Linked DNA regions of Homo sapiens. The protein of the gene in region 1 purifies or fractionates together with the protein of each later gene. This does not show direct contact. Each region holds a gene or a part of one and is shown in the gene's direction. Other genes may lie near its edges.

Region 1 (9,561 bases):
CCATACAGGGACCCCAGGCCTGCCTGGCGAGCCTGTGGATAGGTTCAGCTCTGCTGTATGAGCCTGGGCAGTGTTCTGGCCTCATTTGATTCTGATGGCAATTTGGGGCCCACGGGAGGGGTGTAGGACCTTAGAGTGGAGTATCCCAAGACAGGAGTGAGGTGACAGCAGCAGCATGGAGCTGGCAGGGGGTGGCCACAGGACCCTACTCCCTCCTGGCATGAAGGAGAAGGCATGCAGGCTGAGCTGGGCACCTTTGCAGCAGGCTCGGCCACGAGGCCTGCTGTCACAGCGGGCCCAGAGACAGCAGCCAGGAGAGTGGCCCCTGAGCCCAGGGAGGATCTCTCAGACGCAGTCCCCACTCCAACCCTGTTACCCACCAACCACACACCACACCCACGCACCCACTCTGTGGCGGACACCTGGCAGCTAAATAGTGACGGTGGATGTGCTGTTTCCTAATGTTGCTTTCTTCCAAATAAGAGGCCTGGGTGTCTATTGGGGATGTCTGTCACCAAAATATCTTTGGGCGCCAACACTGTGGAGTCATGGCTTCAGCCGGGAAGAAAGTCTGAAGCTTTAATCTTCTGTTAGTCATTGGTTTTCTTTACTCCATCCATTTGTTTTCACTTTTAGGTTTAATTTTTGTTTATTTCCTTAACCAGACTTCTAGCCTGGCCCACAGTAGACTGACCTGACTTTTGCTTTTCAGTTTTGAAAGTCCTAGCGTTTTTCCCCCTAACTCCGTTTTTGTTGATTTGTTGAAAAGGTTTGTCCAGAGGGGTTGCGTTTATCCGGTTTGACAAACGGTCGGAGGCAGAAGAGGCAATTACCAGTTTCAATGGTCATAAACCCCCAGGTTCCTCTGAGCCCATCACAGTGAAGTTTGCAGCCAACCCCAACCAGAACAAAAACGTGGCACTCCTCTCGCAGCTGTACCACTCGCCAGCGCGACGGTTCGGAGGCCCCGTTCACCACCAGGCGCAGAGATTCAGGTGGGTCGGGAGGGTGCGCGCTCCTGAAAGCCATACTTAGCCCCGCTGGCAGGCGACGGCACAGCCACAGAATAGAAACCACGGGGATGATAGACTGATCCCGTCAGAGAGCGCGTTTCAGAATCATTCTGCAGCTCCACACCACAACCTCCATCAGAAAGGTGTCTGTAGGAAAGCCGTTTACTTCCGATTGGGCGTTGTCTTTCATGGGAATCAAAACAGTGACTCCAGGCTGGACACAGTGACTTATCCCTGTAATCCTAGCACCTTGGGTGGCTGAGAGAGGAAGATCGATTGAGCCCAGGAGTTCAAGACCAACCTGGGCAATATTGCGAGACCCCATCTCTACAAAAAATACAAAGCTGGCCAGGCATGGCGGTGCGCTCCTGTAGTTGCAGCAACTCAGGAAGCTGAGGTGGGAGGATTGCTTGAGCCCAGGAGGTTGAGGCTGCAGTGAGTTGTGATCATACCACTGCACTCCAGCCTGGGCCACAGGGCCAGAACCTGTCTTTTTTTGTTTTTATTAAAAAAAAAAAAAAGACAGCACCAGTCCCCACCAGTTGCTGTGAGCGTGAGCACTTAGAGCTTCAGCACGCAGTTCCTAGTAACAGCAGAACGGAGCCGCGAGCTTTAAAGATGGTTTCATGCCCAGTGTGGGGGAGCACACACCTGTAATCTCAGCTCTCAGGAGGCCGAGTTAGGAGGATTACTTGAAGCCCCGAGTTTGAGCAGCCTGGGCAACAAAGTGAGACCCCTGTTCCTACAAAAAGTAATGAAAAAAACTGGGCATGGTGATGCTGGCCTTTAGTCCCAGCTACTCAGGAGGCCATGGTGGGAGGATCGCTTGAACCCAGGAGGTGGAGGCTGCAGTGAACTATGATTGCACCACTGCACTGCAGCCTGGGTGATAGAGTGAGACCCTTTCTCTAAAAAATAAATGAATAATGAACGTCTCATATCTGTGGGAGAAAAGATGCTGCCTTAGGTATACTCGGGTGAGAGTAGATCTTCCAGCATTCTTAGACATTTGATCAGCAGCCCTAAGGCAAACCTTTTTCAAACACCTGCCTCGTGGAGTCATTTGTATTGGTGAATGTTGTATGTATGCATTCTGTTTATAAGCCCTGTCCTAGAGGGGAGGAGTTTTCCCGGATTCCTTAGTCTTTCCATCCTGAAAATGGTTCTGGCTGCCAGGATGAAGTGGGATAGAGGCGATGAGAGTCAGGGCCTTGGACTCCAGGATGTGGTGTGCTGTCGCCTCAGAAACAGCAGAGGTCTCAGTGTCAGGGCTGTTTTGTTTTTGTCAAAACCTCAAGGAGTGGCATCGAGGGCTTATCTCAGGTATGACAAGGATAGATTTCCCTTTTTTTTTTAATTTTTAATGTTTTTATTTTTTGTTGAGATGGGGTCTCACTGTGTTGCCCAGGCTGGTCTTAAACTCCTAGCCTCAAGTGATCCTCCTACCTCAGCCTCCCAACGTACTGGGATTATAGGCGTGAGCCCGGCCCCATCGTTGTTTTAACAGTGAAGCTGGGTGGGCGCTGCCCAGTGCCACACATGCTGCTGTGAGAGGTGTTATTCTCATGGCTGAGTTACCCAGCATTCTCAGCCTGGCTCAAATTCCAAAGCTGGCCTGCCTTCCTTGAGGTTTCTGGCTTGAAGACAAGGCTGGGGAAGCTTCTCTGGACGGAATGGAGCTGAATTTTAAAATCCAGCTCTAGAAATCCCATCATACAGTCGGTCCTGCTCTTGATGGGGCGGGCTATATGGGCGGTGGGGTTGGGTGAACTGCTCCTTAGCCTGGAAGGAAAACAGGGAAGGTTGGAGGAGACATGGGACTCTGGTCCCAGTAATGAGGACAAGAAAAGAAAGGGGAAACCGGAGAAGTGGACATTTCTGGTCGAGCAGGAAAAGTGAGTGGCAGGGCAACCACTAAGACAAAGTGATGGAAGGAAGTGGGGAGGGCGGGAGAGTCTGGAGGGAAAGATTCGCTCAGGAGGCTGAGAGAAGAGGAGGAAGAAAGACCCAGACTGCAGTGAGTTTGCAGTCAGTCCCTATCACGTCCAGAAAAGCCCAGAGATAAGGGATGGAAAAGAATTGGGTTGGAGGAAGAGAGGAGAAGATTTATGACTGTCAAGACCAGAGAAATCAGCAGGAGAAAAACTACCAACAAGAGTAATTCCTAAGAAGGCCGGGCGCATTGACTCACGCCTGTAATCCCAACGCTTTGGGAGGCCAAAGCAGGAGGATCACTTGAGCCCAGGAATTTGAGACCAGCCTGGACAACATAGACCCTTTCTTCTTAGTCTTTCCATCCTGAAAATGGTTTTACAAAAAATGTAAAAATTAGCCAGCATGGTGGCACACACCTGTGGTCCAGCTGCTCAGGAGGCAGGAGGATCACTTGAGCCTAAGAGTTTGAGACCATACTGGACAACATAGTGAGACCCTCTCTCAAAAATAAAGAAAATCACCGTTGGGCTAGTGAGCTGCCCCATGGCAGCTGGTGTCCTCTCGTGTCTGTCGAGAGGGTGAATCTGTTTAACAGCGCTTGAAGGCACTCGTTTACCCCGGCTGGGGCCTGCAGGGCTGCGCTTGGCTGATAGGGCCATAGCCTGAAGCCCAGTTTTATTTTGGAGCAGGTAATGCTTCTCTGCATGCATCACGCAGCTTCACAGATGCCGGCTTCACAAATGTATGCTACTCAGATATTCCCAAACTGACCCTCAGACCTTTACTTTTTTAATGTGAGAAAGTTCCAGAGGGAAACATAGCTTTAGGAACTGTTTTGTCATATACCTTAATCCTTATTACAGCATCTGTACATTTTCAGAAGGCTTTATTTTATTTTAGTTTAGTTTAGTTTTTGTTTTCTGAGGTTTTTGTTTTTTTCCTAGAGATGGGGTCTCTCTGTGTTGCCCAGGCTGGTCTCAAACTCCTGGCCTCAAGTGATCCTCCCACCTTGGCCTCTCAAAGTCCTGGGATTCCGTGCTTGAGCCACCATGCCTGGCCCAGAAAGGCTTATTTTTTATGTAAATAAAAGTATCACTGTGGAAAGAGCCCCACGTGTGTGGTCAAGTTTGGTGAGCCTGCCGTTGCTGGTGTCCCAGGGCCCTTCCCTGTCCCTTGAGTTCTCAGTCCTCAGTGGTTTGGCCCCTGACCCTCAGGGGATGTTGAGCTCTAGCCACAGAGGGTTGGTTGCCTGGTGCTTGGGAAGGAATTCTTGTGCCCTACAAGTGGCCCTGGCAAAGGCGTGCTCTAACCAGAGACCACTGGGCTGTCAACGCTTGGGGGCGGGTCATGATAAGGGGAAGGTGCAAAATTTGGAAAAAGGAGTTCAGCCCCTGCACGTACCCCACAGTACGAGGAGAGTTTCCTCCAGGGAGAACTGAGGCTGTCAGAGGCCTGCAGAGCATTTCTACCTTCAACGGAGGACCAGGAGAAGCGCCCATCATCTAAAATGTGGGGAACCGCAGGAACCCCTAAACAGAAACCCCGACATACACAGTGGGAGGAGTGGAGGGCACCAACCAGCCCCTCAGAGTCAGCTCCCTACAGAACAGGGTCCCGCCCCTCCACTACTGTATTTAATTCCTCCCAGGGTTTTGACCCATGCAGGTGTCTCAACCGTGAGCACCTCGTGGCTGCGCAGAGCGGGATGGGGCCCAGCGGCCATGGTCAGCATGCGTCCAGGCCTTGCCCCATCCCCAGGCCGCCTGCGCTGACCGTGGCCTGACGCTTGCTCTCTGTCTGCCAGGTTCTCCCCCATGGGCGTCGATCACATGAGCGGGCTCTCTGGCGTCAACGTGCCAGGAAACGCCTCCTCCGGCTGGTGCATTTTCATCTACAACCTGGGGCAGGATGCCGACGAGGGGATCCTCTGGCAGATGTTTGGGCCGTTTGGTGCCGTCACCAATGTGAAAGTGATCCGCGACTTCAACACCAACAAGTGCAAAGGGTTTGGCTTTGTGACCATGACAAACTATGAAGAAGCCGCGATGGCCATAGCCAGCCTGAACGGCTACCGCCTGGGGGACAAAATCTTACAGGTTTCCTTCAAAACCAACAAGTCCCACAAATAACTCGCTCATGCTTTTTTTTGTACGGAATAGATAATTAAGAGTGAAGGAGTTGAAACTTTTCTTGTTAGTGTACAACTCATTTTGCGCCAATTTTCACAAGTGTTTGTCTTTGTCTGAATGAGAAGTGAGAAGGTTTTTATACTCTGGGATGCAACCGACATGTTCAAATGTTTGAAATCCCACAATGTTAGACCAATCTTAAGTTTCGTAAGTTATTTCCTTTAAGATATATATTAAACAGAAATCTAAGTAGAACTGCATTGACTAACCAGTCCCTCTGGATGGTGGTGAACCTGAAGCATGCTTTAACCTCTAAGACTGTCTAACACGCGTTTCATTCAATGTCTCCACAGACTGGGTAGCAAAAAAATCACCTTTTAGTTTTAGTTTTTAATCTAAAGATGTTAGACAGATGCTGAGTGTGCGTTTTCTCAACCGCTTCAACATTGTAAGCGATGTATGCTTTGGTTGACAGGAAGTTCCTTTTCCAGGCAGGTCCCGTTGCCACCTCCTGCTCACTCAGTCCCGGGCTCTGCCGAGTGGTCCTGGGAATGGCGGCGGGCCCGTCCAGCGTGGGCCACCACTGGGGCCGGGGGCCACGGGCTGCATGCTGGGCGGGCCCTCCAGAGAAGGACACAAACGTGTTTCGTAAGCCCAGGCACCAATGGGAATGGACCAAAGAGTTTCAGGGAAACTCCAGTATATTCCAGAGTCAGATCTAAGCTCCAGGCACGCCTGAAGATGTGTTGCTACTCTGACATCCCGAGTTTCTGTCCACACATTGCATGCACAGCGCCCCACACATTGGATACTGTTGTTCACGATAATTTCTCCCGTTTTCCAGAGCATTTAACATAGCTTGGAGGCGTAAAATGGCTCTGTATTTTAATAACACAGAAACATTTGAGCATTGTATTTCTCGCATCCCTTCTCGTGAGCGCTTAGACCTTTTTCTATTTTAGTCGGATTTTGTTTTGGAATTTTGCTTTTGTATGAACACTCAGCAGAAAAGTACTTACTTCTTGCCAGTTATCTATTAACCAAAACCTTTGATTTGTAGTTTTAAAGATTAACCCTCAAAGTTCTCTTCATAACTGCCTTGACATTTTGGGTTGTTCTGTTCTGTTAATTTTCTTTTGCTTTTTTGTGTTTTTTGTTTGTTTTTACTTTTGCATTTAAGACCATTAAATTTGATTTTGTTTTGCTCGAATTTTGTTTTGTTTTTTATTTTACCTTTTCTTTCTTTTTGGCTAGGGAAGGTGCAGGTGGCCCAGCATTCAGGGAGGAGTCGTAAGATCTTAAGAAACCAATCCTTGCCTCAAGCAAAAGCATTTCTGAATCTGTGACGCAAGAATGTGCAGTTACAGGCTGGTGGCTTTTAAACCAGGAGCCCGGAGGAAGGGTGAAAGAGAAAGCCTGTGAAATAGGCAGGGCCAGATCACCCAAAACTCCTCAGGACTGGGATCTGGCGTTTATAAATAACTAGTTTACAGAGAGAATCACAAACAGGATAACTTAGTACCAGCAGTTTTTAACCTTGACGTGAGACTAAAACGTGACCGTAGGCTGTTTTTTAGTTATTGCTCTCATGAGATGATGGCTGTATTTATCTGTTTATTTATACCTATTTATGTATTTATTTATTGAAGTGTGAAATTGAGCAATAGGCAGGCACCACCGTCCCCAGAGCAGGTCAGCGTCTCGAGAGGCCCCTGGACAATTGAGGATGCCCATCCCCTCCCCTTTCCCTGATCTTTTACTGAGGGGCTGTGTGCGCGATCCTTGCAAATTGATGATGTTGCCATCCGTACCCAGGCTGTGTCTCATAAAAGTCGGCCTGGTGCCAGAGAGGACCTCCTTTCTCCCACAGAATCCCAGATCCTCAGGAAAAGCCAAAACCGAGGCCCATTGCCCGGATTCGACACAAAAGAGGGTCCCTGCTCTGTTGCCCGAGAGCAGTCTGCATCCTGGGACCAGAATGCTTTCCTGGAAAAAGAAGCCTTTCAGGTTTCCCTGGGCCAGCATCTTCTGATGGAAGGTGGGAGCCAACACCCTTCTGATGGAAGGTGGGAGCCAACACCCTTCTGATGGAAGGTGGGAGCCAACACCCTTCTGATGGAAGGTGGGAGCCAACACCCTTCTGATGGAAGGTGGGAGCCAACACCCTTCTGATGGAAGGCGGGATTCCCGCTTCTGAAACTCCCCCTGGAGTCTCACTCCCACACATGCCCATAGCTAGCATTCAACAGAGAACTCTGTCTTAAGCTTCAACTGTGAAAATGATGACGGGCTTGTAGCACCTCAGCTTCTTTCCTCGCCCCCTTTTATCTGAATCCTATCAATTATTCTGATGCTGGGACAGGTGAGAAGAAACTGTGAAGTATATGAGCCTTTGAAAGTTCCCTGAAGTTTCTCAGTTCAGGAACATTCTCATTGTATGTGGTCTCCGCTGTTTGAACAGCCTTCTAGCTAAAAAATTCCAAAGCCTTTATTTGGGAGTCTTAGCTTGCAAGCTTGTGGAAGGATTTAGCTTAACAACTGTCACTCCTGAAAAGCAATCTCTGTTCCATCAAGGTTCTAGTTGCTGGCCCTGTGTCCTCAAAGTTCATTACATCTTATCAAGGCCTGTTTGCAAAGGGGAGATCCCTTTTCTTAAAAAAGGCTCAACCCAAAAGAAACCATTTCTTAAAAAATTTTACATAGATCAGTTGTATTTCTATTTAGCAAAAATGAGTGCTCTGCTTTTATTTGGGAATTTCGATGAAAAAGCGTTCAGAGTAGATAATGTTCATTTATCAAAAATCTGGTTTGGGAAATACCAAAGAGGCTTTGATTGAATTCCCTTTTGACCCGTGTGTAACTTCCTCTGGTAGTTAGACCCCAGGCAGCTCCGAATTTGTGAACCTGCTTCCTGATGAATTCTCCCTTGTTCCCCCTTGGCTCTGCCATTATTTCGTTTTCAGTGTAATTTGCCAAGCCGCAGTTTTCTGTGCTGGCTGTGCCTCTAGTCGCAGCTCTGTGACTGATTCCCTCCCGGGTGCTGAGTCCCCTCCCCGGCCACCATCCTGCGTGAATATCCTGAAATTCATGGGCTTCCTCGGGGGCCCGCCCGCAGGTGGTGCTGGGTGGGTTCCGCCACCTTCTCCTGGAAGGTGAGCCTTTTCCTGGCCAAGGGCAGCTGCCTTAACCTCTGAGAGTCTGCGCTTGGCCTTAGTCCTGGAGACCCAGCCTCCAGGGACTGAACCGTGCTGCTGTTGGGAGCCAAGACCGGCCCTTTGGAGCCGGCAGCCCAGGGGTCCCTGCTGGATCAGAGAAATAGAAGCACCCGAAGACGGTTAGTGGCAATTCCTTGACCCGGTTTGCTTCCAAATGAAGGCCATTTGTCCACCAGGCATTGAAAAGACATGACTTACCCAGTCCGGCATCGGACTTGAAAAATCGAAATTGACATCACTCAGCTGTTACATTTCACATCCGATTCAGCCCCCTTTTATTTCCATGTGCTTTTCGCAGCCTTCCTGTGTTGGATGAAAGAGAATAAGAATTCAGCTGACAGGAGGCCTCTATCCTGTCCCTCCACCCCACCCTCCACCTCAATCCCCTCCCATCTTCCCCAGACCTACCTCACCTACTAGGACCTGAGGCAGCTCCTTAGCAGAGACCCCTGGGGTTTAGCTGACTCTGGGGGTCAGGGGTTCCTGTCCCCAAACTTCGCAAGACAGCCCTGAAGTCACAAGTGCTTTCTTTTAAGTGGCATTGGCAATTGGCGTGTAATGATGGCAGTAGAATCTGAATCTCGGATCCCAGGCAGGGTTCACATTTCCAAACCTTTTTGATTTCCCCTGACCTCTAATGGCTGGATCCTATTTTTCTACAACCTTTCAGTGACATCGTTCAGGTTTCTTTCTTGGCCATTTAAAAAAACAAATTTTTTTTTTCTCACTTGTAAGTCACCGCCAGTACCTAAGTTAGGCTAACGGAGACTTTGACAGGACTGGATTTTTCTTCCACCAGAAGAGAAGCCTTTTCCGTTGGTTTGGGGCCACCTCTTTGACCATGACCATGTGATGTTCCGTTTACAGTGACTTGCTTTGGGGGAGGGGAGGCTCTCTTAACCGATTCCCATGTTGTACAGTAGATGGTTAGACCTTTTGTATATTAGTGTGTTTTAAGTTATTGATTTGTTTTATATAAAATAATTTATTTTTCAGGTGCCATTTTTCATTTTAACTTTGTTTTTACATGGGTTTGTTTTCAATAAAGTCTGACACTGGTGTCCAAAAGTCAACAATAAAATGAATCCCATTGTGTTCTTTTGAAGATGCCTATGTAACTTTTAAGCTTTTTAAATTATTTTCAGAAAAAAAAAAAGAAAAGCCCTTATCAGTTTTCCATCAGCCCATTGCCTTTTTATTTTTTTTTTTTAATCCTTGTGAATAAATGTTCTTTAGTGTTTTAGGAGGAAAAAGCAAACCTAGATTTTG
Region 2 (5,534 bases), on another chromosome or scaffold:
TATGTTTCCTGACGTTTTACATTTCCACTTTCCTATTCCATTCATTAAGCTAGCCAACAATCCACCATCCTTTAAAGATTGTTCTCATAACTGAACAAAAACCACATAATCTAAACAGAGCAAAGCTACAAGAAATAAATTTATTTAAACGAAAGAAAAAGGAGTCTGTGTGAAATGTCTTCTTTTGTTTTTGTTTTTTACCTAAGTTATATTTTTCAAAAAAAAAAAAAAAGAACTGGCTAGCCCTTGAGTTGGATTTATAAAGGAGGTTGCCTTGCTTGAAAGAAATGGTCAGTTGTGTGACAGTATGTGGAACCCTTTCAGGAAATGCCCACGTGCCTTTCAGTTAAGTCTTTAAGTCTGGAGGCGACACACCAGGGTGTGTCCTTGAAGAGTGGGCCTGTAAAAGGGGAATTTGCATTGCAGCCTGTTCATTGTTTCCCAGGTCCTGCCCAGAATGCCGGATCACATCTAACTTTGTCATTCCAAGTGAGTACTGGGTGGAGGAGAAAGAAGAGAAGCAGAAACTCATTCTGAAATACAAGGAGGCAATGAGGTATGAGCACTGCAGCCTTTTCTCAAGCGAAGAGCCCAACAGAGCTTGGGTTCACTTTGAAAAGAATGGTGCTGCATTATACACTCCTACCTCCTTCCTACCCTTCTTTGACTTCCCAGGACAGTTTATTTTGTCACCCTGATAACATCCAGTATATATCTTGCTATAACACAGTCCTTGGGGTCCATGCCAAGGGACTGTGTTATAAAGAGGTCTCTACTGTTGACAAGTAAGGCCCCATGAGTGGGGTTCTACCTTATTCTGAATCCGTGTCATAGCTGTCCTATGTTCTCATGTGTTGGCTTTCTAGAAGATTTTCTCTCTATGGCATCTGCTTGTACTAGAGCTATTAACCAGCATAGACTTGAACAGAGTTACCGGTTTCTAGTTAGTGTTTCTTGCATTGGCACACACATGTTTATAAGAACACATCTTGGGGAGGGCTGTAAGCTGACATACTGGTTCTATCCCTACCTGTTTAAAGAAACCCCGGATGATAGTCAAATACAGACCTGAAATCCACTGTGAATAAGGGTTGCGATATTTTCCTTTCCAGCAACAAGGCGTGCAGGTATTTTGATGAAGGACGTGGGAGCTGCCCATTTGGAGGGAACTGTTTTTACAAGCATGCGTACCCTGATGGCCGTAGAGAGGAGCCACAGAGACAGAAAGTGGGAACATCAAGCAGATACCGGGTAACTCTCACTGTTTTTTTAAAGGAGGGGAAATTCCAAGGTATCAGTTGAGTCCTGCACATATTGGGGTAGGGGAAGGAGAAGGTTAACGCTCAGGTCTGGGAGCGAAAGTGTAGAGTATTAAAGGAGGAAACAAACCTCAGAAAACTGGGAGGGATAGGAAAGGAAGAAAAAATGTGTGTTAAAGCTCTAGCCTAAACGATTTCCATGAAGTAACCAGAGGGGAGGAAGTGGTAAATGGAAACCCTAACTAAGAAGTCTGGTTCGTCATGCCCTCTGGTGTGCTGGACGTTTTGCCTTATAAACAACAGGATAGAAGATACTGCTCGACAGTGCCATCCCTATCATGGCCTTGTTTTTTACAGGCCCAACGAAGGAACCACTTCTGGGAACTCATTGAGGAAAGAGAGAACAGCAACCCCTTTGACAACGATGAAGAAGAGGTTGTCACCTTTGAGCTGGGCGAGATGTTGCTTATGCTTTTGGCTGCAGGTGGGGACGACGAACTAACAGACTCTGAAGATGAGTGGGACTTGTTTCATGATGAGCTGGAAGATTTTTATGACTTGGATCTATAGCAACCTTGCGTGGCGTGTGAACTGGTCTGCTGACCTCAGACAGCAGCTGTCCCCTGTGGTGGTGTGGCAGTGCCTGTGTTCTCTCCTAGGCAGGCCTCTCAACTCCAGGTGCTGTCCTAAGAATTTTTACCCAGGGCCTGTCTTCTCAACCCCTCACCTTTCCCTGAGGAGTGTGTTGTTTTCCCTGTTGAAAAAAGTTACAAAAATAAATCTTAAAGTTAGTTTTTTGTAACACGAATTTAACTGTCAGACAGTTAGTGTAGGTGTGTTGCGTCATCTGTTTTCAACCAGATTGCATTTATGGACTTTTCACACACTCATTTTGAGGACCCCAGGTTCAAAAGTAAAAGCAGTGGCCCTGCTTTGGGGTCCAAGAATAGGAGTGATGGGTGAAGGGACCTAAGCTGGCCAATAGCCCTCTGCCCCAGACATGGGATGTGGATCCTTGAGGTTTCTGGTGAAATCTGCACATCTGTGTTTTTATATCTGTTCCCTACCCTGTAATCCCTACCACGTGCACTTGTTCTGTGGTTTTGGTCTCTTGTTTAATTGCACACAAGTAATACTACTGGGTAACCAGAATCAGGTGTGAATGTGTTGAGATTTTTTACTGTTTTGCATGATAGGAAAATTGAGAAAGAATACGTATAAAAGATAGAGAGGCATAACATCAATGCAGAGTTGGAAGTTGGCTCCCAAGGGCTGACATGGTGTGAGTGTGTGGGTGTGTGATAAGCTTCTCATCCCTGCATAGATGCAGTATTCTTAGCCTTAGTAGAAAAACCTGGTTTAGTGGTTTAAGCCTTGTGTGGCAGATAGATCTTAAAGGGCAAAGCAGTATATTGGTAGTTGTCAATATAGCAGTGCTAGCTCTGTCTATATAAATAGAGAAATGGGGTTAGCCATAGAGGTTAAAACTACCTGGTTATCCCATATAATAACACAAACTGGGTCTTGGATACACAGTTGTATTTAATGTTTTACGATCTAGCCTTTCCAGTACAGGCACTTTCTGAGAAACCTTTGTCCTCACTTGAGGCATTTTGTTGTCGGGTTTTTGTGTTTGTTTTTGTGGGTATTTGCCTCATTCCACCCCTGAGCTTTCAGGTAGACAGACGTGATTCAAAACTCTGTTCTAAGGTGTTTATTGTAGTGGAGTAATGGGTTTGCAGTGATAAGTCATACTTTTCCACCGAAAGGGAGGGCTTGGGAATCCCTGAGATTAGCTAAAGTTAAGTTGTTGGAAGAATTCCTTGATTGGAAATTGTACCTTTGTGTTTTGTTGCTCTGTTTCCTGAAAATAACTCGGGGATGCTCCTGGTTTGTCCATCTACTGCTTTGATTCCTTGGATCCCACCCATTCTTTCACTTTAAGAAAAAACAAATAATTGTTGCAGAGGTCTCTGTATTTTGCAGCTGCCCTTTTGTAAGAAGCACTTTTCCCAAATAAAACAATTAAAAAAAAAGTTGGCTGTTCTGTGTAATGAGCTGTTTTTGAAATGTGCCGATGTCAAAGAATAATGATGTTTTTCTTTCACTGACTCTTCGATCGGTCCCTTGTCGGATATTCGGGAGGATAGGTACTTTGAGAAATGTGTGTGAGAGAGAAAGGGAAACCTTAACTAGCCGGGGTCATCAAACAATCCTATACTTGAAAATGTTCAAGACTAACGCTGGGCCACCTGTTGAGCAAAAGGCACTGGCAGTTTTCTGCTACCATGCACTTGCGGTTGAACTTGCTTCATGCCCTTAGATAACGGGGGAAGGTCATAATATAATTGTATTTTGAAAGCTTATTGTTCTGCATAATTATTTCGTGAATTTTTAAGGAGTTTTCATTATTGTGAATTTTTTGTGAGTAAGAACCATTCTGCTACTCCCATGGAAGACCTTCAGGTGACCTTTTTTCCACACTTGTAAAAATAACTGCTCCTCGATTTTAGTATTTATGTTAAGAATTTATGGCTGGGTGCGGTGGCTCACGCCTGTAATCCCAGCACTTTGGGATTACAGAGGCAGGAAAATCACTTGAACGTGGGAGGTGGAAGTTGCAGTGAGCTGAGATCATGCCATTGCACTCCAGCCTGGGCAATAGAGTGAAAAAAATAAAGAATTTGTGCTATGGGGGCCGGGCACGGTGGCTCACGCCTGTAATCCCAGCACTTTGGGAGGCCGAGGCGGGCGGATCACGAGGTCAGGAGATCGAGACCATCCTGGCTAACATGGTGAAACCCTGTCTCTACCAAAAATACAAAAAATTAGCTGGGCATGGTGGCGGGCCCCTGCAGTCCCAGCTACTCGGGAGGCTGAGGCAGGAGAGTGGCGTGAGCCAAGATCTCGCCACTGCACTCTAGCCTGGGCGAAAGAGCAAGACTCCAACTCAAAAAATGCTATCGGAAAATGTTTAAACATCTAGGAATCATTTCTGAGTGGGCTTATACTGTGGTCATGATAACAACTGGGGATCCACTGAGTAGTCTGGTCTGTTTCTGTAAGCTTGTAGCCCAGCAGCTAACTCCCAGGGGAGTTAAGTCCACCCTCAGGTGTACCAGTCAGGCTATGCTGGGGACATGCAGAGGGATGGGGAAGAGCCTGAGAATGGGTTGGGAGTGCTGGAGCTAGGAGGTGGAGAGAGCCTTGAGCAATTCTGGAAAGTAGGAAGAAGCATCGTTTGCATATCTGAATCTGCAACAGGGAGAGGGGGATAGCAAGGTCCAGGGAGTGGCAGTTGGTCACTTCTGGGATGGAGAGAAGTGTATGTTTAGAGCAACTCTTTTGTATCTTGGAAAAGGCAGTGGAAGCTTCTGTACTAGTCCGAGTAGTCTGTAATGTGGATTGCTACCCTCAATGGCTGCATTGAGAGCGAGTTCTCTTCTTTCCCCAAGTGTTAATTGCCTGTTGCAAAAGAAGCTGAGGTGTAAACATTGATGGGTGGAACGTCTCACCTTCTCATTTGCACAAAACTACAATTTCAGCCTCTTCCCTGCCACTGTACACAATAAGTGATTTCACATCATGCCAGTGATTTGGGGGAGAGAAGGGGCTTGATATTAATAAAGGTAGTTGATAAAGGAGGAGAAAGAGGCTTGATATTGATAAAGGTAGATATTGAAATGGTAGTCATAGTACTGGCAACAGATTTCCAACCCTGCTTTGTGGCTTCGTGGTTCAATTGCAAGGCCCAGCTGACTTACCTAGGCTGAAATGTGAGAAGTGTCATTGCCAGATGAAAGTTTAAGATCCCATACGTGATCCTCTTTCCAGGCAATTGGTAAATTTTGCAAAGTGGCTGTTCTACCAGCCTGGGTCACCATGCTGGTACACTTAGTTAACCCATGAGGGACATGGAATATGAGCAACCCATAAACCTTTGGGGTGAGAAGCCACTGAGCCAAACAGCCTGCCCTGTCTTGAAATCTTGTTTAAGCTGTCATTTTATAAGGAAAATTAAGCAAAATCCTTTTTTTTGTTTTGTGTTTTGTTTTTTTTTTGGAGACGGAGTCTTGCTCTGTCAACAGGCTGGAGTGCAGTGGCGCGATCTTGGCTCACTGCAACCTCTGCCTCCCGGATTCAAGTGATTCTCCTGCCTCAGCCTCCTGAGTAGCTGGGCTACAAGTGCATGCCACCATGCCTAGCTACTTTTTTTGTATTTTTAGTAGAGATGGGGTTTCACCATGTTGGCCAGGGTGGTCTCCATCTCCTGAC

What was found. Proteins that work in one complex are often made in the same cells at the same time.
Region 2: the proteins of ELAVL1 (region 1) and MKRN1 purify together in Homo sapiens (affinity purification with western blotting; 2 studies listed by BioGRID, with this or other methods). This does not show direct contact.

What each region holds. Positions count from the first base shown.
Region 1 is NC_000019.10:7,958,999-7,968,559, reverse strand, and holds part of ELAVL1 (ELAV-like protein 1), read left to right. Parts: intron 1-769; coding exon 770-995; intron 996-4,752; coding exon 4,753-5,077; 3' UTR 5,078-9,561. UniProt on the Homo sapiens protein: RNA-binding protein that binds to the 3'-UTR region of mRNAs and increases their stability.
Region 2 is NC_000007.14:140,450,812-140,456,345, reverse strand, and holds the end of MKRN1 (E3 ubiquitin-protein ligase makorin-1), read left to right. Parts: exon of another isoform or gene 1-131; intron 132-445; coding exon 446-556; intron 557-1,112; coding exon 1,113-1,251; intron 1,252-1,616; coding exon 1,617-1,829; 3' UTR 1,830-3,313; downstream 3,314-5,534. UniProt on the Homo sapiens protein: E3 ubiquitin ligase catalyzing the covalent attachment of ubiquitin moieties onto substrate proteins. These substrates include FILIP1, p53/TP53, CDKN1A and TERT.